Regions from separate parts of the Homo sapiens genome. Here regions 1, 2 and 3 are each reported to be linked to region 4. The links are microRNA targets in miRTarBase. Many come from high-throughput screens and were not tested one by one. Region 4 holds a microRNA gene; each other region holds the end of a gene's coding sequence.

Region 1 (6,111 bases), not on the chromosome of region 4:
CAGCAATTCTCCTGCCTCAGCCTCCTGAGTAGCTGGGATTACAGGCATGCGCTACCACGCTGGGCTAATTTTGTATTTTTAATAGAGACGGGGTTTCTCCATGTTGGTCAGGCTGGTCTCTAACTCCCTACCTCAGGTGATCCGCGCCCCCACCCACCACCACCCTTCGGCCTCCCAAAGTGCTGGGATTACAGGCGTGAGCCACCGCGCCCGGCCACAACTTTCTTTTTTCTAAATTAGAGACAGGGTCTCGCTCTATCGCTCAGGCTGGAGTCGGTGGGGCTATCATAGGTCACTGTGACCTCGAACTCCTGGGCACAAGCTATCTTCCCGCCTCGGGCCTCCCAAAGTGCTGGGATTACAGGCGTGAGCCACCGCGCCCGGCCATCCCCCATTTCAGCTAGGGAAACAAGCCGAGCTGGGGCTAGGCTTTGTAACTTTATTACACTTTTTTTTTTTAACATTACACTTTTTTTTTAATGTTACACATTTTTGTTACTTGTTTTGTCAGCCTTCCCCACCACAGTCCTTGGAGGATCCAACTTTGTCTTTTTAAATATTGCAGCCCCAGTGGTTAGAATAAGGCCTGGCACGGTAGGCATATATAGATACTTGTTAATACTTGTTCAATGGATGAGGGAAGCCAAGTTCAGATCTCTTCCTGTGCCGTCAGAGAAATATTTGCCGTGGACAACTTCAGAAGTTAACAGATTGGAGTCCACTTTTCCCACGCCAAGCCTGTGCCTCAGTCAGCATGACTTCTCTGATTCCAAAATGGCACTCTTGACATTTCTTAGTTGCTTCCGTTTTTCTTTTTGAGACAGAGTCTCACTCTCTCGCTCTGTCGCCCAGGCTGCAGTCCAGTGGCGCCATCTCGGCTCACTGCAAGCTCCGCCTCCCGGGTTCACGCCATTCTCTTGCCTCTGCCTCCTGAATAGCTGGGACTACAGGCGCCCGCCACCAGGCCCGGCTAATTTTTTTGTATTTTTTAGTGGAGACGGGGTTTCACCGTGTTAGCCAGGATGGTCTCGATCTCCTGACCTCATGATCCACCTGCCTCAGCCTCCCAAAGTGCTGTACCACAGGCGTGTACCACCGTGCCCGGCCTCTTTTTTTTTTTTTTTTTTTTTTTTTGAGACGGAGTCTTGCTTTTTCACCCCGACTGGAGTGCAGTGGCACAATCTCGGCTCACTGCAACCTCCGCCTCCCAGGTTCAAGCGATTCTCCTGCCTCAGCCTCCCAAGTAGCTGGGATTACAGGCATGTGCCACGACGCCTGGCTAATTTTTGTATTTTCATTTATTTATTTTTTTAAGACAGAGCCTTCCTTGCTCTTGTCGCCCAGGCGGGAGTGCAGTGGAGCGATTTTGGCAAACCGCAACCTCCGCCTCCTGGGTTCAAGCAATTCTCCTGCCTCAGCCACCTGAGTAGCTGGGATTACAAGCACCCGTCACCACGCCCAGCTAATTTTTGCATTTTTAATAGAGACGGGGTTTCACCATTTTGGTCAGGCTGGTCTCGAACTCCTGACCTCAGGTGATCCACTCTCCTCGGCCTCGGAAAGTGCTGGGATTACCAGCTTGAGCCACCGTGCCTGGCTTCTTAGTTGCTTTCTATTAAGTTTTGTGCCTTTTTTAAGAGGAGGAAACTGGCTCAGAGGGGTTAAATAACTTGTTCATTGCTTGTATAACAGTGGATTGGGGATGTTACACTGAAATTTGAATCCGGGGCTAGGTGTGGTGGCTCAAGCATGTAATCCCAGCACTTTGGGAGGCCGAGGCGAATCACTTAAGCCCAGGAGTTCAAGACCAGGCTGGGCAACAGAGTGAGACCCAGTCTATAAACAAAAAGAATAAGAAACTTGGGCTGGGCGCGGTGGCTGACGCCTGTAATCCCAGCACTTTGGGAGGCTGAGGCGGGCGGATCACGAGATCAGGAGATCGAGACCATCCTGGCTAACATAGTGAAACCCCGTCTCTACTAAAAATACAAAAAAATAGCTGGGCGTGGTGGCGGGCGCCTGTAGTCCCAGCTACTTGGGAGGCTGAGGCAGGAGAATGGCGTGAACCCAGGAGGCAGAGCGTGCAGCGAGCCAAGATTGCGTCACTGGACTCCAGCCTGGGCAACAGAGCGAGACTCTGTCTCAAAAAAAAAAAAGAAAGAAATTTGAACCTGGCTGTGTGTGGTGGCTCACACCTGTAATCCCAGCACTTTGGGCAGCCGAGGCAGGTGGATCACCTGAGGTCAGGAATTCAAGATCAGCCTGACCAACATGGTGAAACCCTGTCTATCCTAAAAAATAAAAAATAATAATAATTAGGTTTGGTGATGCGCTTGTAGTCCCAGCTACCTGGGAGGCTGAGGCAGGAGAATCGCTTGAACCCAGGAGGCGGGGGTTGCAGTGAGCCGAAATTGTGACACCGCACTCCAGCTTGGACAACAGAGTGAAATGCTGTCTCAAAAAAAAAGAAATTTGAACTCAGAAAGTTGTGTCCTCAGGTGTAGTTTTTTTTTCTATCAATTACTCTTTCGGGAACTCAGATTATCATAAAATTAAGAGGTCCAGGCCAGGCATGGTGGCTCACGCCTGTAATCTTAGCACTTTGGGAGGCCAAGGCAGGCGGATTACCTGAGATTGGGGGTTCAAGACCAGCCTGGCCAACATGGTGAAACCCCGTCTCTACTAAAAATACAAAAAATTAGCCGGGTGCAGTAGCGTGCACCTGTAATCCCAGCTACTCTGGAGAGGCTGAGGCAGGATAATCGGTTTGAACCCGGGAGGCAGAGGTTGCAGTGAGCCCAGATCGTGCCACTGCCCTCCGGCCTGGGCTACAGAGCGAGACTTCGTCTCAAAATAAATAAATAAATAAAAGTCCAAATCCCCCAAACTGGTATATGACGTTCTCTGCTTCTCTAGTCTTTTTTATTTTTTTTTTTTTGAGACGGAGTCTCGCTCTGTTGCCCAGGATGGAGTGTGGTGGCACAATCTTGGCTCAGCGCAACCTCCACCTCCTAGATTCAAGCGACTCTTCTTGCCTCAGTCTCCCGAGTAGCTGGGACTACAGGCGCGCGCCACCATGCCCAGCTAATTTTTGTATTATTAGTGGAGACGGGGGTTTCACCACATTGGCTAGGCTGGTCTTGAACTCCTGACCTCGTGATCCGCCGGACTTAGCCTCCCAAAGTGCTAGGATTACAGTTGTGAGCCACCGTGCCCGGCTGAAACTATTGATCTTTAAACAATCTCTCCAGTCTCTGAGACTCTGCACATGTTCCCTTTTGGAATGCCCCCTTTGCCATCTTCTACCGACCTTCAATTTTTATTTGCTTTACTTCAGTGTTTGTTTCCCAGAGTTGAATGAGCTAGGCAGACAAATTAATCCAAAGTTTAGAGGGATAATAGTGATTGGTTTTGTTTTAGATGTAAGCAATAAAAGCAAAATAAGCAGAAAAGGGAAGGACCAAGTTTTATTTTTATTTTTTGGGACGGAGTCTGGCTCTGTTGCCTAGGCTGGAGTGCAGTGGCACAATCTCGGCTCACCATTACCTCTGCCTCCTGGGTTCAAGCAATTCTCCTGCCTCCGCCTCCCAAGTAGTTGAAACTACAGGTGTGCGCCACTATGCCCGGCTAATTTTTGTATTTTTAGTAGACACAAGGTTTCACTATGTTGTCCAGGCTGGTCTCAAACTCCTGACCTCATGATCCGCCCACCTTGGTCTCCCAAAATGATGGGATTATAGGCGTCAGCCACCGCACCCGGCCTAGGACCAAGTTTTTATACTCCTAGAAGGTTCTAGGTAACTCCGTTCTACCTGAATCACTGCAGAGATTCTCTAGGTCCAGAGAGCTGATGTAGTTACTGTACACCCCAGCCTGGGTCATTGGGGAAAGGCTCAAAGTAATGGCATGGCACGCTCATTCTAGCTTCATGGAAAGCAGCAGCTACAGAGACACAGTTCTTCACCTGGAGCCTGAGCTCTACAGCTTAACTTCTGTATCTGCATTACCAAGGGGGTATTGGAAACAATTCAAGGTTTTTATGGGATTCCACAGCCCAAAGGAGACTAAGAAGCCCTCTCTAATTCCATCTCCTGTTAAAATGGGAAAACAGGCCAGGCGCAGTCACGCCTATCATCCCAGCACTTTGGGAGGCTGAGGCAGGCGGATTACCTGAGGTCAGGAGTTCGAGACCAGCCTGGCCAACATGGCGAAACCTCGTCTCTACTAAAAATAAAAAATTAGCCGGGTGTGGTGGCTTGCGCCTGTAATCCCAGCTACTGTGGAGGCTGAGGCAGGAGAATCACTTGAACCCGGGAGGGGGAGGTTGCAGTGAGCAGAGACCGTGCCATTGCACTCCATCCTGGGCAACAAGAGCGAAACTGTCTCAAAAAGAAAAAAAAAAAAAGATGGGAAAACAGAAAACTCAATAGTGTAGATTAAGGAGATAAGCATTGGCTGGGCGCAGTGGCTCACGCCTATCATCTCAGCACTATGGGAGGCTGAGGTGGAGGAACCATGTGAGGTCAGGAGTTGGAGACTAGCCTGGCCAATGTGATGAAACTCCACCTCTACTAAAAAACACAAAGATTAGCCAGGCGATAGTGGCGTGAGCCTGTAATCCCAGCTACTTGGGAGGCTGAGGCAGGACAATCGCTTGAGCCCAGGAGGCAGAGGTTGCAGTGAGCCAAGATCGTGCCACTGTACTCCAGTCTGGGTGACAGAGTGAGATTGTCTCAAAAAAAAAAAAAAAAGAGATATGCATTGATAATCCTTTCCACCAAGAAACAGTTCAATCTTGGGCAAAAGAGCCTTAGGTATAAATTAAAAATAACAGCATCTACTCATATAAAACACCCATTATGTTGCCTGGCTCATGTCACTCATGAGCTAGTTAGTGGGTTTTTGTCACAGGGGTCTTCTGCCCCCCTTGAGTTCTGGACCTAAAAGTGCTGAGGCTGAAGCCTCCTAAGACATGAGCAGTTACAACCATACTCCCCAACTGTTAGCCCTATCTTATGCTGTTAGGTGAAGGGGCAGAGCCTGCAGTGGCTGGAAGAAAATGTCACAAGCTCTCAGCCTTTCTTGAAGCCCTGGCCAAGTATAAAACAGAGCAGGAAGGTCCTTCCACCTTTCACTCCTTTTCTGCCCAGAAAAAACAGAGAACAGGGGCTCTTTCTTCTTCTGGGCTCTGCTACCTCCCCAGGCCCTCCCCTGCATTAGACACCACAAGACACGGACGGCCGACTCCCCCTTAAATAGCTGTTTATTTGGCAGTGTGCCGGAAAGGGTGATGGACTTAGCATTCACAGACGACACCACACACCACTGTCACGAGGGAAGAAAGAGCGCGGGCAAGCCAGCCTGGAGCCCCGAGGAGGCGGCCTCCTCTTCAAGAGTGGGAGGGGGCAGGGCCTGGAGTGTTGGGGGCAGCCTGGGAACACCTCCGCTTAATAGGCGTGGTTAGAGACGAAGAGGGACTCGCTGGCAGCAGCCCCAGCCTGACCGCTCGGAGTGTACTTTCCTTGACAGGCAAGGCTGTTGGCCTAAGCAGGGAGAGGGGTGGAGTGAGAAGGGCTCTTCTCCGAGTCCCATCCACCCAGGCACCCTGCCCACCTCCTGCCTATCCTTACCAGGGCTCGCTTGACATACTCCTCCTGCGCAGCCTTCAGGTTCTCCTTCTTCCCGCCCCAGGCCTTCAGGGCAGAGGCCTGCAGGGCTCGGCCGTAGGAGAAGGTCAGGGCCCAGGGCTTCAGCAGGGGGCACTTGTTAATGGCATTGAGGTTGATGGACGCCTCCTCCTCACTCTGGCCTCCAGACAGGAAGGTGATCCCTGTAGAGCAGGGGTGAGGCGAGAGGGGCTGTGGTCAGAGACCCAGGAAGCTGGCAGGAGCTGGTGGAAGTTGCCATGGAAATCCGTCCAAATGGGCATAGGGTTGTGGGTGGAGCTTATCTACTGCATAGAGATCAAGATGAGTGTGGGCCTCACCAGTGACAGCGGGGGGCACTGTGCGGCGCAGCGCTGTGACGGTCGCCATGGCAATCTCCTCATGAGAAAACTTCTGAGTGCAAGCATGGCCTGGGGTGACCATGTTGGGCTTCAGCAAGGTGCCT
Region 2 (6,111 bases), not on the chromosome of region 4:
AGGTCAGGAGTTCAAGACAAGTCTGGCCAACATGGTGAAACCCCACCTCTTTATTAAAAATACAAAAATTAGCTGGGTGTGGTGGTGCATGCCTGTAGTCCCAGCTACTTAGGAGGCTGAGGCAGGAGAATCGCTTGAACCCGGGAGGTGGAGGTTGCAATGAGCCGAGATCATCACACTACACTCCAGCCTGGGCGATAGAGCAAGACTCCGTCTCAAAAAAAAAAAAAAAAAAAAAAAAACTTACAAAAGACAAAAAAGAGCAGAGAATCAAGTGGTATCTGGCAAAAGAAGTGGGTCAAAAGAAGGTTTTCTTTTTCTTTAAGATGAGAAAGATCCAGTAGAGGGGAAAATTGGAGTTACAGAGGAGGGATGGGGGCCAGGGTAATGCCTGGTATGTGCTAGTGCTCGAGGAAGGGGCTTGGCTTCAGCCAGGAGCATGGAGGGTTCATCACTAACAACTAAGAAGGCACAGCAGGTGGGTGCAGATGCTGGGGAGGGGGCAGAGGTGGTGAAAGGAGTCTGTGGAAATTCTGTTCAGCTGTTTTCAACCTTCTCAGTGATGGAAGAAGTATCAACTGAGAGTGAGGGAGATTTGACACACACAGAGAAGGCAATGTGAAGATGGAGAAGTAAAAGATATGGAGATGCTGGCCTCGAAGACTGGAGTGATGGAGCCACATGCCAAGGAATGCCAGCAGCTACCAGAAGCTGGGAGAGGTAAGGAGCGAAGGCCCTCCTGGCACCTTCATTTCAGGGCAGTGATACTGAGTTTTGATTTCTGGTCTCCAGAACTGTGAGATAATACTTTTCTCTTTTAAAGCCACTAAGTTTGTGGTAATTTGTTACAACAGCCACAATGAAACTAATATAGAACTAGAGGAGAAAGAACTGACTTAGAAGACCCACTGCCTTGTTCACTACCATATACCTAGCACCCAGACCAATGCCTAGCATATGGTAGTGCCCAATAAATATTTGTGGAAAGAATGAATGGGCAGGAAGACAGGCCTGAGTGGTCCACCATATCACCTCTCTCCCCAGTCTGCAGTCTAGCCTTCTCTGCCTCCAGCCCAGAGGGCATAAGAAGCATCCTCCAGCACCCAGGCTTACATGTTTCAGCTAGAGTTGCCCAAAGAGCTACCAAGAGAGGGTTTTGGCTTGTACTCCCTGGAAAACGGAGCCTGAGAGATTCAGCTTGGTCAAGTACCCGCCCTATTTAATCAACAAAAATGAAATCACATTGTGCCAAAGACTGTAACCCTAAGGATGGGGGAAGAGGGCAGTTTCTATGAAAAGGAATGTCAGGCAGATAATCCAATAGGTGTCCTGGACAAAGAGCACTGTTTCTGGGCTCCTCACCACACTCCTACATTAGCTTTAGTCCTCCAGCTACTTTGAAGTGCACATTAGTGTCCCATTCACAGGCAAGGCAGCTCAAGACTAAGGCAGGTCATTTGCCCAAAGGCATACAAAGGTCGGTAGTAGGGCTAAAATCCAGATCTGCCCAGTATCAAGAGGTAGTGCCTCTAAATGCTGTGCTAGCCTGCCTTCATCCTCCAGCTCCATGCAGGAAGGAGACACCCCACGGCCACCAGTGGGCTCCTCCTTACTTCAGATCTGGTTAGCACCAAGGTCATGCTCTGTAAGACGTGGATGTTCTGGGCAAAACACCAACAACTCACAATGTTCTCAGCAAAACTTCAGGAATACTGGAGTAAAAGGAACTAAGACAGATACGTGTTTCTCTTCTTTATTAATCAGTCGAGAGATACAAAGACTTAATAAAAAGTTACACAGAAGGTTCAAACATCACTGAGATCTTCAGGCATCACTCGTTTCACGACAATGGCCACCTGTTAAGACTATGAAACAGAAGCTGGGCGCTCACAGGCGCACAATAATTCAAGTATCTTTCATTCCAAGTAAACCCGACATGGAATTTCAAACACAATGGGCTGCCAATGGAGGGAACCTGTCTGTGGCTCCAGATTTGCTGTAACATGTCTGAGGGGCCTTTGGGTTAAAGTTGCCACGTTAGTGGGTCATGTCTCCTGGAAAAGTGAGACAGGCCCCACGAGGCCAGCCAGGCATTTTCCACAGCAAGTGCCATGAGAAGGAGGTGGGCAAAGTCCTAAGAGAAACCATCCAGGTGTCCCGAGTGGCAAAGTGCACAGGTAGTAAGTGGCCATTGTCCCCAGCCGTGGGAGTGGAGAGGATGGCTAGGATTATCTCTGGAAAAAAAAGAGCAGCCCTCTAAGGAGGGTGTCAAACAGTGGAAGAAATCTGAGAGCACACAATGGCAAAGGCATGGGGTGAGGGCATTTCAGGAAGGCTGTGCTCCAGGGGATGTGAGGGTAGCACTATTCTCCGGAAGACCAACGGGAACATGAGGATGTCAAACAGCCAGAAGTCCCAGTTGGCTCCTCGGTCATGGTGTGGCGTGGCCAACCAGGTTTCCCAGTCTGACCCTGCTAGATGATAATGGAGGAGAAGATGGAGGGATGTCACGGGGCACACTCTACACTCTACTCTGGCCTATCTGGAAGCTACCTCAGTCATGAGGGCCCACTTCTACAAATGGGGCATTATTTACCCATTTCATTTATGGGGAAATGAGTTCATGGGAGATGAAAGCTTACCAGAGGCTCAACAGCAGAGGATACAGAAGACCAACCCTTAACTAGTCTCTCTCAGGCACCATGGAGTTCAACGTGGGCCAAGTGCAGGATGGATGAACAGATGCACTGTCCCTTCTGTCCCAACTGTGTGGTTGAAATCCCTATGTCTTCTCACCTTTATGGCCGAGGTCTCTGTTCTACATCAGCTGATCTGCTTCCAGTGAGACTATCAAACTCAGTGCTGTCGAGGAGTTGCAGCTCCACGGTGGGCATGGGGTATGCTCGTAGTGGTTGGTGCCCAGCAGGAGTTTTCTGGCTGTGGACACTGCCCTGTGTGCAGGGCTTCTTCTCCTACTCCGCCATGCTCTTGATTCTGAGCATCTCCATCCTTACTCCTTCCTACCTGCCTTTCCTCCGCCTCACCTCCAGTTTGCAGCTGCCATCAAACTGCACACAACAAACTGCTGCAGATACCACTTAGGGAAGCATAAGGATTGGGAAGAGCTTTGTCCTTTTAGTGTTTAAAATACCTCTTAACACTATAGGGTCTAAGGAAACTTTGAAGTGCCTCACCTGGAATGTTCTCTCTTATCCTTCCTTTTAGGAACAGAAAAAGGGGCAATTTAGACAAATAAGAAGTTTGATTTCCAACAAGCAAAAGTCTCAACTGTCTCCTTTTGTAGCAGAATCATTCTCCAGCTGGGCCCCTCAGTGCTGGTGATCTTGCCGAGGTAGGAACACAGCACATTTTCAGAACCCGGGTGTCTTGGCATCCAGTTGGGTGCTCACTTTCCTTGGGTTTCTTTCTCCAGAGTGGCCAGGCCACCTGCTGAGGATATTCTAGTTTGCATAGTGACCTGATTTGTAACATCTAGAAAATAAGGTCACCAGCTGTGCTGCCTTTTATTCTGACCTTTTCTTTGGTGCAGCGTTGTTCCTGTTGTCTCTCCACTCCCACCCCAGCTGGAAAAACTCCAGTCTTTGGCTCACACCAGCAGCACCTGAGGTGGGGGGGCGGGGGTGAGCATCATCAGGGAGCTGGGGAGACTGCCCCCTTGCAGAAGGTATATGAGAGCCACACATCAGCCCAGCCTTCCTTACTTCTCAGATCATTTTATAGTCAAGATTCAACAGGTCAATAAAAATTGCCAAAAAGGCAACCTAGTACTACTTTTACAAATACTGGAAGGGGTCTGCTCATTGACTAGGCTTATAGAGGTGGTAGTCAGTTGACTCCAAGGGAAGATGGCTTCAGGTCTTGGTGCTGTTTTAGTGATAACAGTATTGAATCATTTTTGGTTAAGATCCAGCATGAACTGGAGTTTTCTGGATGGTGTCCACATTAGGTTACTTTGACGTGTCAGTGTATTCGTATCAGAGAGGCACCAAGCAGCACAGCTGATGTGAAAACGCAGCAAGAGACAGATCTGAGAAACCCAGAGCCTCCTCAGACCCCTGGGGAGGGCAGAGAACTTAACCCATACTGTCTGAAAAACAAATGAACATGTTTGCAAAGCCAATCAGCTTACTTTAGTTTATACATTTCCAGGATAATGAAAACCCCTTTTAGAACTGACATGCTCATGACAGCCACTCCCCTCAGCAAAATACAATCTGTTTTCTAATATTTGCATCCCCAACCATAGGAAAATCCTCTGGGTAAATACCTCTCTCTTCTCTCATTTCTAGGCCATGTGTAGGGTCTCTTTCCCTCCCAGGTTTGACCCATGGCCTGAGGCCTCCAGCTACAGTTCCCATTACCTTCTGTCCTCTCAGACACTCTACTTTCAGATTGAGTTGAGTTTTGGCACTGATGGGAAAACTCGGTTAAAAAACAACAACAATATTCCAGATATGTTACCAGAGAGGTCTGCTGAACACTTGAAACTTCACCAGGCAGTGAGCCCAGACCCCTTTAATAAAATAATAATCACTAAAATAATTTAAAAATCTATAAAAGACATCCAAGCTCAGACATTGTGGATGGGGGGTAAGGGAAAGAAGCTTGTTCATGGCTTGTTTTGTACTTTGTATGTGGATAAACACTTCCACATCAAACCAACACTATGTAGTTACAATAAACAACACACCCACCGAGAGAGGGGGAGGAACCGGGTTGAATCAACACATGGGGGGGCCAGGGGCACTTGGATGCTGCTTCTGCTTACAGGTGGCTTCCTTGTCTCTTTGAGAGGTGGGAAAGCCCGTGCCCTCTGGGCAAAGCCAGACCCTGTCTGCTCCCTGCCCACCTGCCCTTCTCCCTTCCTGTACCAAGTCCTTGGGCCAAGGGTTGTGGTTAGAAATGGTTTCAGTGCAGTTAGGTGGGGAGGGGTCCCGAGGGCTGGCCAGGCCACCGTCACTGTGCCCAGGGCCTCAGGCCTGTCACAAGATCACACATTGCAGTTTGTGGGTGCCTGTGGCCCGGTCTCCCCGCCATTTGGTTTTCTTCTTCTTCTTCTGGCTTTTTTCCGGAATCTGTTGCCTTTTGAAACAATGAAGGACAGAAAGACAAAGTCAGAATGGGCTTTGCTTCTCCTCTGCCCCTCTCCTCCCTAGCCCCAGATCTGAGTCAGAGGAGGCCTGTTCTGGCGGGGTTAGTGGGTGAGGGGGATGGGGATGCCATCCCTCTCCCAGTGGCTGTCCTGGCCGCTGGAGGAGGGCCTGGCAGGATAGCTTCTCTTGAGGCAATGCAATGGGGGAGATGGGGGAGGGGATAACCTAAATCGCCCTACTGATGGGAATGACTGACATTATGTTGTAGCTACATTTACATAAATCATAAGCTACATCACGTTTTGTCTTATAGAGTGCTGGCCTCTATTCCTGTGTTTCATAGTTTAAATAAAATGATGGGTCAACTGAGCGTAAAAGCCATTTCATGTTTTCTGTTAACTTTTCCTATGTCTAAAACCTGACCTTGGCACTATAGGTTCACAACCAAGGCATCACCATAGGCTACCTGATGGCAGCACATCCTAATTGGAGGCAAAATGCCCAAGAGCAAATAGTTTCTTTCTTTCTTTTGTAAAGATGGCATTTCACTATGTTGCCCAGGCTGGTCTTGAACTCCTAGCCTCAAGCAATCCTCTTGCCTCCACCTCCACCTTTGCCTCTGAGTGCTGGGATTACAGGAATGAGCCACTACGCCTGGATGAGAAAATCATTTTGAGAGTGCAAAACTGCCAGCAAAAACATAAAGTGAAGAATGTAATATTTCCTCATTACGCTGGGGAATAATGAGAAGATGAGCTTTTTGAGCATGTGGGGGCATGTGTGTATAGTGGGGGTTAGAGCCCCGGGGCTGATCTCACAGCTCACCAGCAGCCCTTGGAGGTGCCAGCATATAGGCCACAAACTCAACGCACAATGTCTGAGACCCGCTGGTTAGGCTGCTGTGCATGTTAAAGATTTGGGAAATGGGATAGCTTGGTGACAGCGGATGCAGCCAGGAGGCTGTTTTAGTCATGAGTGCATGAGGTGATTAACGTCT
Region 3 (6,111 bases), not on the chromosome of region 4:
TCCAGCTAATATTTTAAATTTTTTATACAGATGGGGGTCTTGCTGTGTTGCCCAACGTGGTTTTAGCTCCTGGCCTCAAGTGATCCTCTCACCTTGGCCTCTGAAAGTGCTGGGATTACAGGCGTGAGGCACTGTGCTCAGCCATCTATATCCATTTTTAACATGAATTAGATAACTACATTTTGCTCCACTCCTTTTCACTTAATCAGTTGAGGTTGCCTTTTTAAAACTATGATACAGTAATAAAATTGGTCTAAAAAGGCAGATAACAGAAAAGGGCAGTTTTATTTCTGTGACGTTACATATACCTAACACTGGTTTCATACAACTTGCTCCACAATGCCTTTTAAGTACTAAACATATTCAGAGGTCAGGGCTAGAAGATAACAAAATCTATTTAAGAGTTAGAGCTGAGAAGATTTCAGAAGCTTTATAAAGGCATGCCAGGAAATGTCTACAATATTTCACAGCTTGGAGGAAGCAGGCAAAAAGAAAATCAAAACAAAGCTTCCAAATCTTTACTTTGCACGGAGGGGAAACCTATCTCCTGTGATTGTAGTTGTATTTTGTTGTATAAATTGACATAAGAATATTCCTGTTGAATCGTGATTTTATCCATGGCAGTGTTTTTTCATGAGTTATTTTCCTTGTGTGTTTGTTGCAGACCCCTGTAAAAGAGCCCAACAGTGAAAATGTAGATATCAGCAGTGGAGGAGGCGTGACAGGCTGGAAGAGCAAATGCTGCTGAGCATTCTCCTGTTCCATCAGTTGCCATCCACTACCCCGTTTTCTCTTCTTGCTGCAAAATAAACCACTCTGTCCATTTTTAACTCTAAACAGATATTTTTGTTTCTCATCTTAACTATCCAAGCCACCTATTTTATTTGTTCTTTCATCTGTGACTGCTTGCTGACTTTATCATAATTTTCTTCAAACAAAAAAATGTATAGAAAAATCATGTCTGTGAGTTCATTTTTAAATGTACTTGCTCAGCTCAACTGCATTTCAGTTGTATTATAGTCCAGTTCTTATCAACATTAAAACCTATAGCAATCATTTCAAATCTATTCTGCAAATTGTATAAGAATAAAGTTAGAATTAACAATTTTATTTTGTACAACAGTGGAATTTTCTGTCATGGATAATGTGCTTGAGTCCCTATAATCTATAGACATGTGATAGCAAAAGAAACAAACAAAAGCCAGGAAAACACTCATTTTCGCCTTGAATATGTAAATGGGATTAATTTTGTCCTGTGCCTTATGTGGAAAGGAACTTCTTTGGTTTTCCTTTTTTGTTCTGGTGGAAGCATGTGCAGGAGACATATCATCCAAACATAAACCATTAAAATGTTTGTGGTTTGCTTGGCTGTAATTTTCAAAGTAGTTAATTGAGGACAAAGGGTAATGCAGAAGTGATAGCTTTGGTTTGCTGAGTCTTGTTTTAAGTGGCCTTGATATTTAAAACTATTCCTGCCACCATTTCTTCTCCTTGGCCACTTCTTCCTTGCGTCTCCCTGCATGCTGCTTTATTTGCTTCTCCCTCCCCAACCACCTCATGGTATATTTAAGAGTGAAAGGGACAAACTAGTAGGTTTGTCAAGTTTAATATAAAGCACTGATGTAACTTGCTAGGTAAACGGAAAGATAAGTTCTAACTGCCTACTATCCAATGTCAGTTAATTGGTGTCTTCCCCCCTCATTTGCTCTCTTCCCTAAAATGTGTCCCAGATGCCTTCATTTGCTGTTTTACTTCTATGTTCTGCTTTTCCTCCTCTCTTTGTTCCCTTCCTGTCTATCCATTGAGTTTATGAAATGGAAGAGTTAACTGCATGCACTAGTGTTTGGAGGGTGTTGTGGTTTGTCTTTCTAATTAGGTGTATAGCCTATTCACTTTCCTAGAATAAATCTCTTAACCTAAATTTGAGTAGTCTGCATTTTGGCAACTCCTCTAGCAGCTTGGTAGCCTAGTACAGGTTGTTTTTTTAAAAAAGGAAAAGCAGGAAGGAGGAGTGAATTTTATTAACATGTTTGCCAAATGTATTGAGATTTGGCCTCTGAAGAACACTTTTTCAGTGTTAAGTTTCTTTACCTTAAGATTCAGAAATACTTTAGAATATTATTAATTTTAAGTCCTGTCTTTACATCCTTTTGGAAAACTTGTATTACCATGGGTTTGGAAAAAGGACAACGAAAGGCTTTTCATGTAAAGATAAGATCTTTAGCTATCTCTAACCCTGTCCTTTTTTCACTGCATTTTTTCTAGTTTTGCTTCATTGCTTATCATTAGGATAGGGTAAGTGAAGTTTGCTATGCTGCTAGCATCCTAAGATGATACCTTTGTTGAAAGAATTGTGAATAGCATGATTCATTTCTAGCAGAGGCTGAGTTTAGGACAGCAGCTTCCATTGAGAAGTCTTTCTGTGTCGTGAATAGCATTTTAATGACCTCTTGGCTCACATAAGCAAACAACATAGGGACGTATCTGCTATGAAAATCCACAAATTTTTCAGATAGTGCCCTAAAAACAATTTTATATGCCTCACTGGTTGTTATTCTTAGGTTATTCCCACACTTGACTTTATCATTGTTTACTACTAGTAAAAAGCAGCATTGCCAAATAATCCCTAATTTTCCACTAAAAATATAATGAAATGATGTTAAGCTTTTTGAAAAGTTTAGGTTAAACCTACTGTTGTTAGATTAATGTATTTGTTGCTTCCCTTTATCTGGAATGTGGCATTAGCTTTTTTATTTTAACCCTCTTTAATTCTTATTCAATTCCATGACTTAAGGTTGGAGAGCTAAACACTGGGATTTTTGGATAACAGACTGACAGTTTTGCATAATTATAATCGGCATTGTACATAGAAAGGATATGGCTACCTTTTGTTAAATCTGCACTTTCTAAATATCAAAAAAGGGAAATGAAGTATAAATCAATTTTTGTATAATCTGTTTGAAACATGAGTTTTATTTGCTTAATATTAGGGCTTTGCCCCTTTTCTGTAAGTCTCTTGGGATCCTGTGTAGAAGCTGTTCTCATTAAACACCAAACAGTTAAGTCCATTCTCTGGTACTAGCTACAAATTCGGTTTCATATTCTACTTAACAATTTAAATAAACTGAAATATTTCTAGATGGTCTACTTCTGTTCATATAAAAACAAAACTTGATTTCCAGCTGTGTGGTTTGGTTTTCATTTATTTATGGAATTGGAAGATTACTTCTGAAAAAAATGTGGAATCGCAAACTCAAAGAGTTGACAAAAATGGGAAATCACTGTCAACCTATGGAAAACTGGAAAGGCAATTTCAAGAACTGTCTTTGCTGAGAAACTACATTAAAAAATAGAATTATCTCTGGGATCCTAAAGCGGAATCATCCTTGTGCCAAAATAGGAGATGCCACGATCCTAATCACACCTGGCTTACACTAGTTGGATGTGCCTAAGGCCACTACAGCTGAGGTCACCTGATTCCTCAGGGGGACCAAGCTGGGCTCCTCATACTGGAGGGTAAATCCTTGTTTTAGCAGCAGCTGGCCTCTTACTAAGAAACAAAGTATTGGCCAGGTGCGGTGGCTCATGCCTGTAATCCCAGCACTTTGGGAGGTCAAGGCGGACGGATCACGAAGTCAGGAGATGGAGACCATCCTGGCTAACGTGGTAAAACCCCGTCTCTATTAAAAATACAAAAAAATTAGCCGGGCGTGGTGGCGGGCGCCTGTAGTCCCAGCTACTCGGGAGGCTGAGGCAGGAGAATGGCGTGAACCCGGGAGGAGGAGGAGGAGGCTGCAGTGAGCCGAGATAGCGCCACTGCACTCCAGCCTGGGCGACAGAGCAAGACTCCGTCTCAAAAAAAAAAAAAAAAAAAAAAAAGTATTGGCTGGGCGCTGTGGCTCACGCCTGTAATCCCAGCACTTTGGGAGGCCGAGGCGGGTGGATCACCTGAGGTCAGGAGTTCAAGACCAGCCTGGCCAACATGATGAAACCCCGTCTCTACTAAAAATACTAAAAGCCGGGCGTGGTGGCGCATACCTGTAATCCCAGCTACTTGGGAGGCTGAGGCAGGAGAATCACTTGAACCCAGGAGGCAGAGGTTGCAGTGAGCCGAGATCGCACCACAGCACTCCAGCCTGGGCTATAGAGCAAGACTCCTTCTCAAAAAAAAAAAAACAAAAAACAGTATTTCCTGCTTTTGTTATACATAGCAACAGCCTTGTCTTTATGTGTAGGGAAAAGAAATGTTTGATCCTATATTCAGGCTTTATTAGTCAATAATAAAGATAAATATTTGTTGACAAGATTGTCTCTGCTGAAAGTATATGTAGAGTTTTTCTCAGATGCAGTGATTTTAAGAATCACATGGAGTGTTTTTAATGTTCTATTCCTTCCCCCCAACATACTTGTTTTGTTGGGACCTACAATTCTGCCTTTGCTGGGTGCAGTGGCTCACGCCTATAATCCCAACACTTTGGAAGGCCAAGGCGGGTGGATCACCTGAGGTCAGGACTTCGAGACCAGCCTGGCCAACATGGTGAAACCCTGTCTCTACTAAAAATACAAAAATTAGCCGGGCATGGTGACACATGCCTGTAATCCCAACTACTTGGGAGGCTGAGGCAGGAGAATCGCTTGAATCCGGGAGGCAGAGGTTGCAGTGAGCCGAAATCATGCCACTGCACTCCAGCCTGGGTGACAGAACAAGACTCTGTCTCAAAAAAAAAAAAAAAAAAAAAAAAAACAAACAAGATTGGTGTAGGGAAATAGGATATGGTCTCCCCCCTTAAATCGATGGTCTAGTTTAGAAAACAAAAGTAATTCATCAAGTTAAGCATATACAAGAGCCAAATAATTGTAATCTGGATTTTAATTGCTGTATTAATATATCAAGTTCAGTTGGTGAGAATGGGATTGCTTTTGGGGGGAGGAGGGACATTAATTGGTTCTTCGAAATGTCGATTCACTGGCTAGGGCAGATGGGGAGGTCATTGTAAGAAGAGACCACAGAGACTAGACAATGACAGGCCCTGGGGAGTCATGGTAAACTCGAGAGTGGCGAGAGCAGTGTGTTTGTGGAAAGCAAGTTTAGATGGATTTGAATAGGAGAAACAAGGGTTCTAGAGGTCACATGGGAAGTCGTGTTAATCAGGGTTTCAATAAGACCGGGCTAAAATGGCAGAGGGAAATGCAGGGTTGAAGGCAAAGGTAGTGTGTGAATGGGGGCGCGGTGTATTTCTGGTGAGCCTGCTAGGTGCTTTTTTGGCACTGCTCTAGGTACTTTGGGTTAGGTCTTCAACGTCCTTGTGAATTAGTACCCAAGAAGAAACGGCCTCAGATTAAGTCATTTGCTTAAGGTTGCACAGCCAGTTGGTGCTGGAGTCGGATTTTGAAACCAGGCCAACACCACTGTCCCTCCTGTGTTCACTTCACCTTATCACAGTTCTCAGGAGGGCCTGGGGTAATGAACAGGTGGCAGAGACAGCAGGAAGAGTCTGGAGTGGTTGTGTGACCATTTAGCCCAACCTTGGCACCTTCTAACAAAGAGTAATACCCTCGAAGTATACTTCATTTACTACTGTTTCTGCTTTATATTACCCCTCAGCATCTCGCGCAGAAGAAAGCAAAGGGAAGCAATGGGGCATCTGATTGGTCTGGGAGCTCCAGATAGCCAGCAGGTACTTGAAGGCTGCAAGCCAGCTTGAGAGCAGTGGCTGGAACTGGAAGGGGTGTGCACACTACCAATAGCAAGTGAGCAAGAGAGACCCACAATAAACTGAAGGTTATTACAGTACTACAGTAGGCTCTAAGAAAGTCCCTTCTCCCACTTTAAGAAACAGGGCTTTTTTTTTTTTTCTTTTTTACTTTTAAAGGAAACAATTCATTTGCTAGAAAAACCTAAAAAAAAAAAAGATTATATACAAAATGGTTGTCTGAATGTGGATTTTATACTGCAGCAAAAGCAACCCAGCTCTGGAACTCTATTCGGCTTCCTCAGTTATCAGGTACATCATGCTGCTGATGAAGGTGAAGGCGAAGGCCACCCACGCCAGGATGTAGGAGTAGCCATAGCTGCCTTCTTTGGTCAGGTAATAGAAATCCGTTGTTTCA
Region 4 (6,111 bases):
CAGGGTCCTCTGCCTAGGAAAACCAGAGACCCTTGTTCACTTGTTTATCTGCTGACCTTCCCTCCACTATTGTCCTATGACCCTGCCAAATCCCCCTCCACGAGAAACACCCAAGAATGATCAATAAATACTAAAAAAAAAAAAAAAAAAAAAAAAAAAAAAGAGTAATGTAGTCACCAGAGGGCTGGTGTCTCTGCTGATGCAAAGTTGGCGCATCAGGTCTCACCACAGGCTAAATGATGACCTGACCACTAACAGGCTTTCCCAGGTATGGGAATTCGAAAATAAGGGGAGTGCCTAGGGGTAGGTTATGAGGTAATGGAAAGAAAAACCTTCACTAAAATGATATTAATGTTTATACATCCATGTCTTCTAGTTTGACTACTATGAGTCTTTCTCTTTGAGAAACATGATGGATCACTGTAAGTTCACCAGAATAATGCAGCCTTGTGAGGCCTCCCAGTGGCCCCCAGCCAGCCATGCACCCTCCTTTCATTCAAACACCTGCCTCTCGAGTTCAGCAACCGGCGCCATCCTAACACATAGTGGTTGCTGATCCCCCTCCTATGTTCCTAGGACCTGGATGCACAAAAGTGAAGCAGGAGCTGTGGCTGACAGTCTCCTTCTGGGGATTCCTTTCTTTCTTTCTTTTTTTTTTTTTGAGACGGCATCTCGCTCTGTCGCCCAGGCTGGAGTACAGTGGCACAATCTCAGCTCACTGCAAGCTCCACCTCCCAGGCTCACGCCATTCTCCTGCCTTCGCCTCCTGAGTAGCTGGGACTACAGGTGCCCACCACCACACTCGGCTAATTTTTCGTGTTTTTAGTAGAGACGGGGTTTCACCGTGTTAGCCAGGATGGTCTTGATCTCCTGACCTCGTGATCTGCCCGCTTCGGCCTCCCAAAGTGCTGGGATTACAGGCGCGAGCCACCTCACCTGGCCGGGAATCCTTTCTGTAAAGCCTGTCACTGCTCCTTCCTAAGCAGCTCTTTAAGGGACTGGGATCTTAATATTTTCCAAGGATCCCAGGTCAGAGTTTTTCCCAGCTCCCTCAACTGAATCTGAACCCCCACAGGAGAAATGTAAACCATGGTACCCATCTGTACCCAACATTCGGGAGCTCACCTTTCCTGTAGAAGATCATGCCAGCTCGGCAGCCTCGCAGGGTCTTGTGAGTGGTGGTGGTCACCACATGGCAGTGTTCAAATGGGGAGGGCACCACGCCAGCCGCCACCAGCCCGCTGATGTGAGCCATGTCCGCCATGAGATACGCCCCGTTCTCATCTGCAATCTTCCGTAGCCGGGCATATTCCAGGTTTCGGGAGTAGCAGCTGGTTCCTGAGACAGGAAAGGTGACACAGCTGCATCAGAGATGTCCACCGGCCAGCTGAGTTGGCTTCACAGTGGCCTCTAGATGTGCAGATCTGAAAGCCCAGAGATTTCTTCCCTTAAAGTCTCAGAGCAAAAATGGAGAATGCCCTCAAAAAGCACCTCTGTGCTAAAGGCAACCACTCTAACTCTTCAACGTCTTGGTGGTTGAGATGGCCCCAACTACTATTGCCAGCGCAGTCAGGGCCTGACATTTCTAGATGCTTCTCTGAGAACAGTCTCACATCTTAATCTACATAGCACAAAAAGCAGCAAACACACATCTGTATCCTGAAAGAAACTAATATATGTAGACCCCAGAAACTCAGTTATCCAGGGCAGAAACTAGCAGTGGGCTCAACAGGGTGCGAACATCTTTCCATCCTCATTCTGTAAGAGGCACCAGGCTACTGGTGAACAAGGTGACTTTCCGCCCCGCGCATCACCTGCGATGATCAGCTTCGGGTGGAAGAGGCGTGCGTTCTCCTCCAGCTGGTCATAGTTGATGTAGCCAGTATCTGGGTTCACCTGTGGAATGTCAGGGAGGCAGGTTCAGGCTGCTTCCTCCAACCACACCTGCCTCCTGTCCTCCCACTTGAACTGGCTCCACCCACCATGACAAGAGGAATGATGTCCTAGATGAGGACTTGAGGGTGAGACAGGATGGATACTGGTGTGTTCAGCCTGCTCAACCAAGTATGGCTCACAGACCCAGGAGTCCCTGAGGAGTCCCAGGGTTGTAGTGAGCCCTGCTGCTGGGGCACTACCTGCTGAGAAGGAACCAAAAAGCACCTGCAGAATGAAACAAATGTGACGGGACCACACAATGGAAACCAAAATGGTTACCTTCAGGAACAAGACCAAAATGCCTGCTAATACTACTTCTATTCCAAGTATAATGAGGCAAGAAAAAGAAACAAAAGGCATAACGATTAGGAAAGAAGAAATTTAAAAACTGACATTACACACAGACAACACAATATACCTAGAAAATCAAGATGCTAGGGGCCAACTGTTAGAATAAGCAAATTTAGCAAGGTCACTGGATACAACATTGAAAAACAAGAAGTAGGGGCTGGGCGCGGTGGCTCACACCTGTAATCCCAGCACTTTGGGAGGCTGAGACGGGCAGATCATGAGGTCAGGAGATCGAGACCATCCTGGCTAACACGGTGAAACCCCGTCTCTACTAAAAATGCAAAAAATTAGCCAGATATGGTGGCGGGCGCCTGTAATCCCAGCTACTTGGGAGGCTGAGGCAGGAGAATGGCGTGAACCCGGGAGGTGGAGCTTGCAGTGAGCCGAGATTGTGCCACTGCACTCCAGCACTCCAGCCTGGGCAACAGAGCGAGACTCCATCTGAAAAAAAAAAAAAAAAAAAGCCAAAAAGTATATAAAAGCAAGAAAGATAGAAAATGAAATGTAAATAACAAAAACCATAAAAGGAAAATCATACCAAACCTTTACACAAAACATCATTGCGTTGTGTATTTTGTGTCACAAAATGCTTGACAAATTATAGTAATTAAGGCAGCACGCATTCATGGAAGGGCAGAGCATCTGGCTTAACCAGAAGCAGAACCACACACAACACAGGTCATTGGATCCATGCCAGTGGTGACGCTGCAGTGCAGTGGGGAGAGGATGACCTTTTCAATCAATGGCACTAGGTCAACTGGGCATCCATTTGGACAAAAATGTTATCTGGATGCCCGCCTCACCCACACAAATCAATTCCATATTCAGCAATCCCACTTGTGAATCTATATCTTAAGAACTTGAAATCAGTATGTCAAAGAGACATGTGCACTCCCATGTTCACTGCAGCACTATTCACAATAGCCAAGTTATGGAATAAAGCCATGTCCATCAACAGATGAATGGACAAAGGAAATGTGACACATATATATATAAACAATGTAATAATAATCAGTCTGAAAAAAGAAATTCTGTCATTTGCAACAACACCGATGAACTTGGAGGACCTTATGCTAAGTGAAATACGCCAGGCTCAGACAGACAAATACTGCATGATCTCACTTCTTTTTTGAGACAGAGTCTCACTCTGTCACCCAGGCTGGAGTGCGGTGGTGCCATCTCGGCTCATTGCAACCTCTACCTCCCAGGCTCAAGCGATTCTCCCACTCAGCCTGCTGAATAGCTGGGACCACAGGCAGTGCCACCACACCCGGCTAATTCTTATATTTTTGTAGAGATGGGGTTTCACCATGTTGCCCAGGCTGGTCTCGAACTCCTGGACTCAAGTGAGCCTCCTACCTCGACCTCCCAAAGTGCTGAGATTATAGGTGTGAGCCACCGCACCTGGCCATGTGATCTTACTTCTATGTGAAATCTAAAACAATCGAACTGCTGGGCGTGGTGGCTTATGCCTGCAGTTCCAGCACTTTGGGAGGCCGAGGCAGGTGGACCACCTGAGGACAGGAGTTTGAGACCAGCCTGGCCAACATGGTGAAACCCCGTCTCTACTAAACATTCACAAATTAGCCAGGCGTGGTGGCGTATGCCTGTAATCCCAGCTATTCGGGAGGCTGAGGCAGGAGAATCACTTGAACCCAGGAGGCGGAGGTTGCAGTGAGTCAAGATGGTGCCACTGCACTCCAGCCTGGGCGACAAAGTGAGACTCTGTCTCAAAAAAAAAAAATTAAAATTGAATAAATAAATAAATAAATAAAACAATCAAACTCACAGAAGCAGGGTAGAATGTGGTTACCAGTCACTGGAGGGTGGCAGACAATGGAGAGATACTGAGCAAAGGGTACAAAGTTGCAGTTAGACAGGAAGAAAAATAATAAATATTTAAGGAGTGGGATATGTTAGTTAACTTGATTCAATAGTTCCACACTGTATATACAAATCATAACATCACTGTGCATCCCATAATTATATATAATTTGTTTAAAAAAAAAAGTCAATTCCAAACAGATTGTAGATCTCGATGTAAAATTTAAAATAATTTTTCTTTTCTGGCAACACATCTCTTAGGAAGTTCATTTTATTAAACTTCTATAAACATATGGGTCAGCCAGGCGTGGTGGCTCACATCTGTAATCTCAGCACTTTGGGAGGCCGAGGGGGTCAGATCACCTGAGGTCAGGAGTTTGAGACCAGCCTAGCCAACATGGTGAAACCCCACCTCTACTAAAAACACAAAATTAGCCAGGCATGGTGGTACACACCTGCAGTCCTAGCGATTCAGGAAGCTGAGGGAGGAGAATCGCTTAAACCCGGGAGGCAGAGGTTGCAGTAAGCTGAGATCGTGCCACTGCACTCCAGCCTGGGCGACAAGAGGGAAACTTTGTCTCAAAAAAAAAAAAAAAAAAAAAAAGGGGTCAGCCGGATGCGGTGGCTCATGCCTGTAATACCAGCACTTTGGGAGGCTGAGTTGGACAGATCACTTGAGCCCAGGAGTTCAAGACCAGCCTGGGCAACATGGCAAAACCTTGTCTCCACAAAAAATACAAAAATTAGCCAGGCATGGTGGCATGCGCCTCTAGTCCCAGCTACTTGGGAGGCTGAAGAGGAAAGATCGCTTGAGCCCAGGAGGCAGAGGTTGCAGTGAGCCGAGACAGAGCCACTGCACTCCAGCCTGGGAGGCAGAGCCAGATACTGTCTTAAAAAAAAAAAAAAAAAAAAAGTCATGGGTAAGCACACATAACCAGCAGAGCATAGAGCGCACCACAGGAAAAACTGGGCTCTGGGATCTGAGAAGCCTCAGGGAAGAGGAGATGTGCAGAGAGGCTCCCTGTTCTGAAGGCCCTGACCCAACCTTCCTTCCTCTTACCTTGGTGTCCCCCTCAGAAACTACCAGCACATCTGGAGTGAAAGGTTTCAGGATTGGTGGTCACTCTTTCCAAATAAAAAAAGGCAGTTATAATCCAACCCAACTATAGAAGCTTGCCACAAGGTTTCGGGAACCAAGACCTCATCTAGAAAGTCAAGCTGAAAGATGATTTGTGGTTTTGTTTGCTGTGTTTTGCTTCAGGGGTGTGGTTCTTTCTCAGTCACCTGAATTTGGCAAAGAAACCGTTTTATGAAATGAAATATCAACAGCTGACCTCCAGTAAAAATGGACGTAATTCACCGGGCATGGTGGCTCACGCCTGTAATCCCAGCTCTTAGGGAGACAGAGGCAGTAGGATAGCTTGAGTCCAGGAGTTTGAGACCCGCCTGGGCAACATAGTGAGATCTTGTTCTCCACAAAAAGGAAAAAAAAAAAGATTTAAAAAAAATGGACATAATTCTAAAATTTTTTGTGTAGCCACAATTACCGGAAAAAAAAAAAAAAAAAAAAAAGCCTGTGCTGCTTTCTCCCTTTTTAATTTAATGGGTTTTTCAAAGGTTTTTCTTTTCTTTTTTTAATCTTGAAAATGAGACAAGAGAACAACTCCTAGAAGAATTCATAGGCATTTATAATAAACTGCAGATGGGGTCCACAGTGCACAGAGGATAAGGAAGGAGACCCCAGCAGTCACTTAGGACCAGGGACAGGGAGGAATTCTCGAGTCACAGTGGGGATGGGCCAAAAACACAAAATAGAAGGTTAATGTTGCTGTTGCTCTAGCCTGGCCCTGCGTGGGGCTCTTGCAGTGGAGTGGGGCAGGGGCTGAAGGTGGAGGCAGGCGGTCTGGTGAAGGCTGGGCAGGGCAGTGGCCCTGGGACACCCCCTAACCTCCAACTCTGCAGCCCGGTGGGGTGGAGGTGAGCTGCCTCTGGCTGCTGATG

The links. Region 4 holds the annotated microRNA hsa-miR-6778-5p (AGUGGGAGGACAGGAGGCAGGU, at 1,943-1,964, opposite strand). A microRNA usually pairs through its seed, bases 2 to 8, with sites in the 3' UTR of a target mRNA and lowers its output. Matches are read on the target gene's strand: a 7mer-m8 pairs with bases 2 to 8, a 7mer-A1 pairs with bases 2 to 7 and ends in A, and an 8mer does both.
Region 1: miRTarBase lists ALDOA as a target of hsa-miR-6778-5p. Seed matches in the 3' UTR shown: 7mer-m8 at 5,396-5,402.
Region 2: miRTarBase lists MRAS as a target of hsa-miR-6778-5p. Seed matches in the 3' UTR shown: 7mer-m8 at 2,204-2,210.
Region 3: the mRNA of RAB10 is a reported target of hsa-miR-6778-5p. Seed matches in the 3' UTR shown: 7mer-A1 at 2,567-2,573.

What each region holds. Positions count from the first base shown.
Region 1 is chr16:30,069,549-30,075,659 of GRCh38, reverse strand. It overlaps ALDOA (aldolase, fructose-bisphosphate A), which reads right to left. Exons shown (of 10, transcript NM_001243177.4): 8 at 5,987-6,111; 9 at 5,631-5,830; 10 at 5,246-5,543. The coding sequence ends at 5,448. It overlaps LOC112694756 (uncharaterized LOC112694756), which reads right to left. Exons shown (of 14, transcript NM_001365304.2): 12 at 5,987-6,111; 13 at 5,631-5,830; 14 at 5,246-5,543. Among named protein-coding and RNA genes, the nearest start is that of PPP4C, 3.4 kb to the left of the region's middle. RefSeq lists an enhancer at 765-944.
Region 2 is chr3:138,401,162-138,407,272 of GRCh38, reverse strand. MRAS (muscle RAS oncogene homolog) reads right to left here. Exons shown (of 6, transcript NM_001085049.3): 6 at 1,740-5,103. The coding sequence ends at 5,004. Among named protein-coding and RNA genes, the nearest start is that of ESYT3, 30 kb to the left of the region's middle.
Region 3 is chr2:26,134,274-26,140,384 of GRCh38, forward strand. RAB10 (RAB10, member RAS oncogene family) reads left to right here. Exons shown (of 6, transcript NM_016131.5): 6 at 665-3,181. The coding sequence ends at 748. It also overlaps the pseudogene EMP2P1. Among named protein-coding and RNA genes, the nearest start is that of GAREM2, 36 kb to the right of the region's middle.
Region 4 is chr17:18,338,918-18,345,028 of GRCh38, forward strand. MIR6778 (microRNA 6778) reads right to left here and starts at 1,969; the gene lies at 1,897-1,969. SHMT1 (serine hydroxymethyltransferase 1) reads right to left here. Exons shown (of 12, transcript NM_004169.5): 6 at 1,815-1,896; 7 at 1,126-1,338.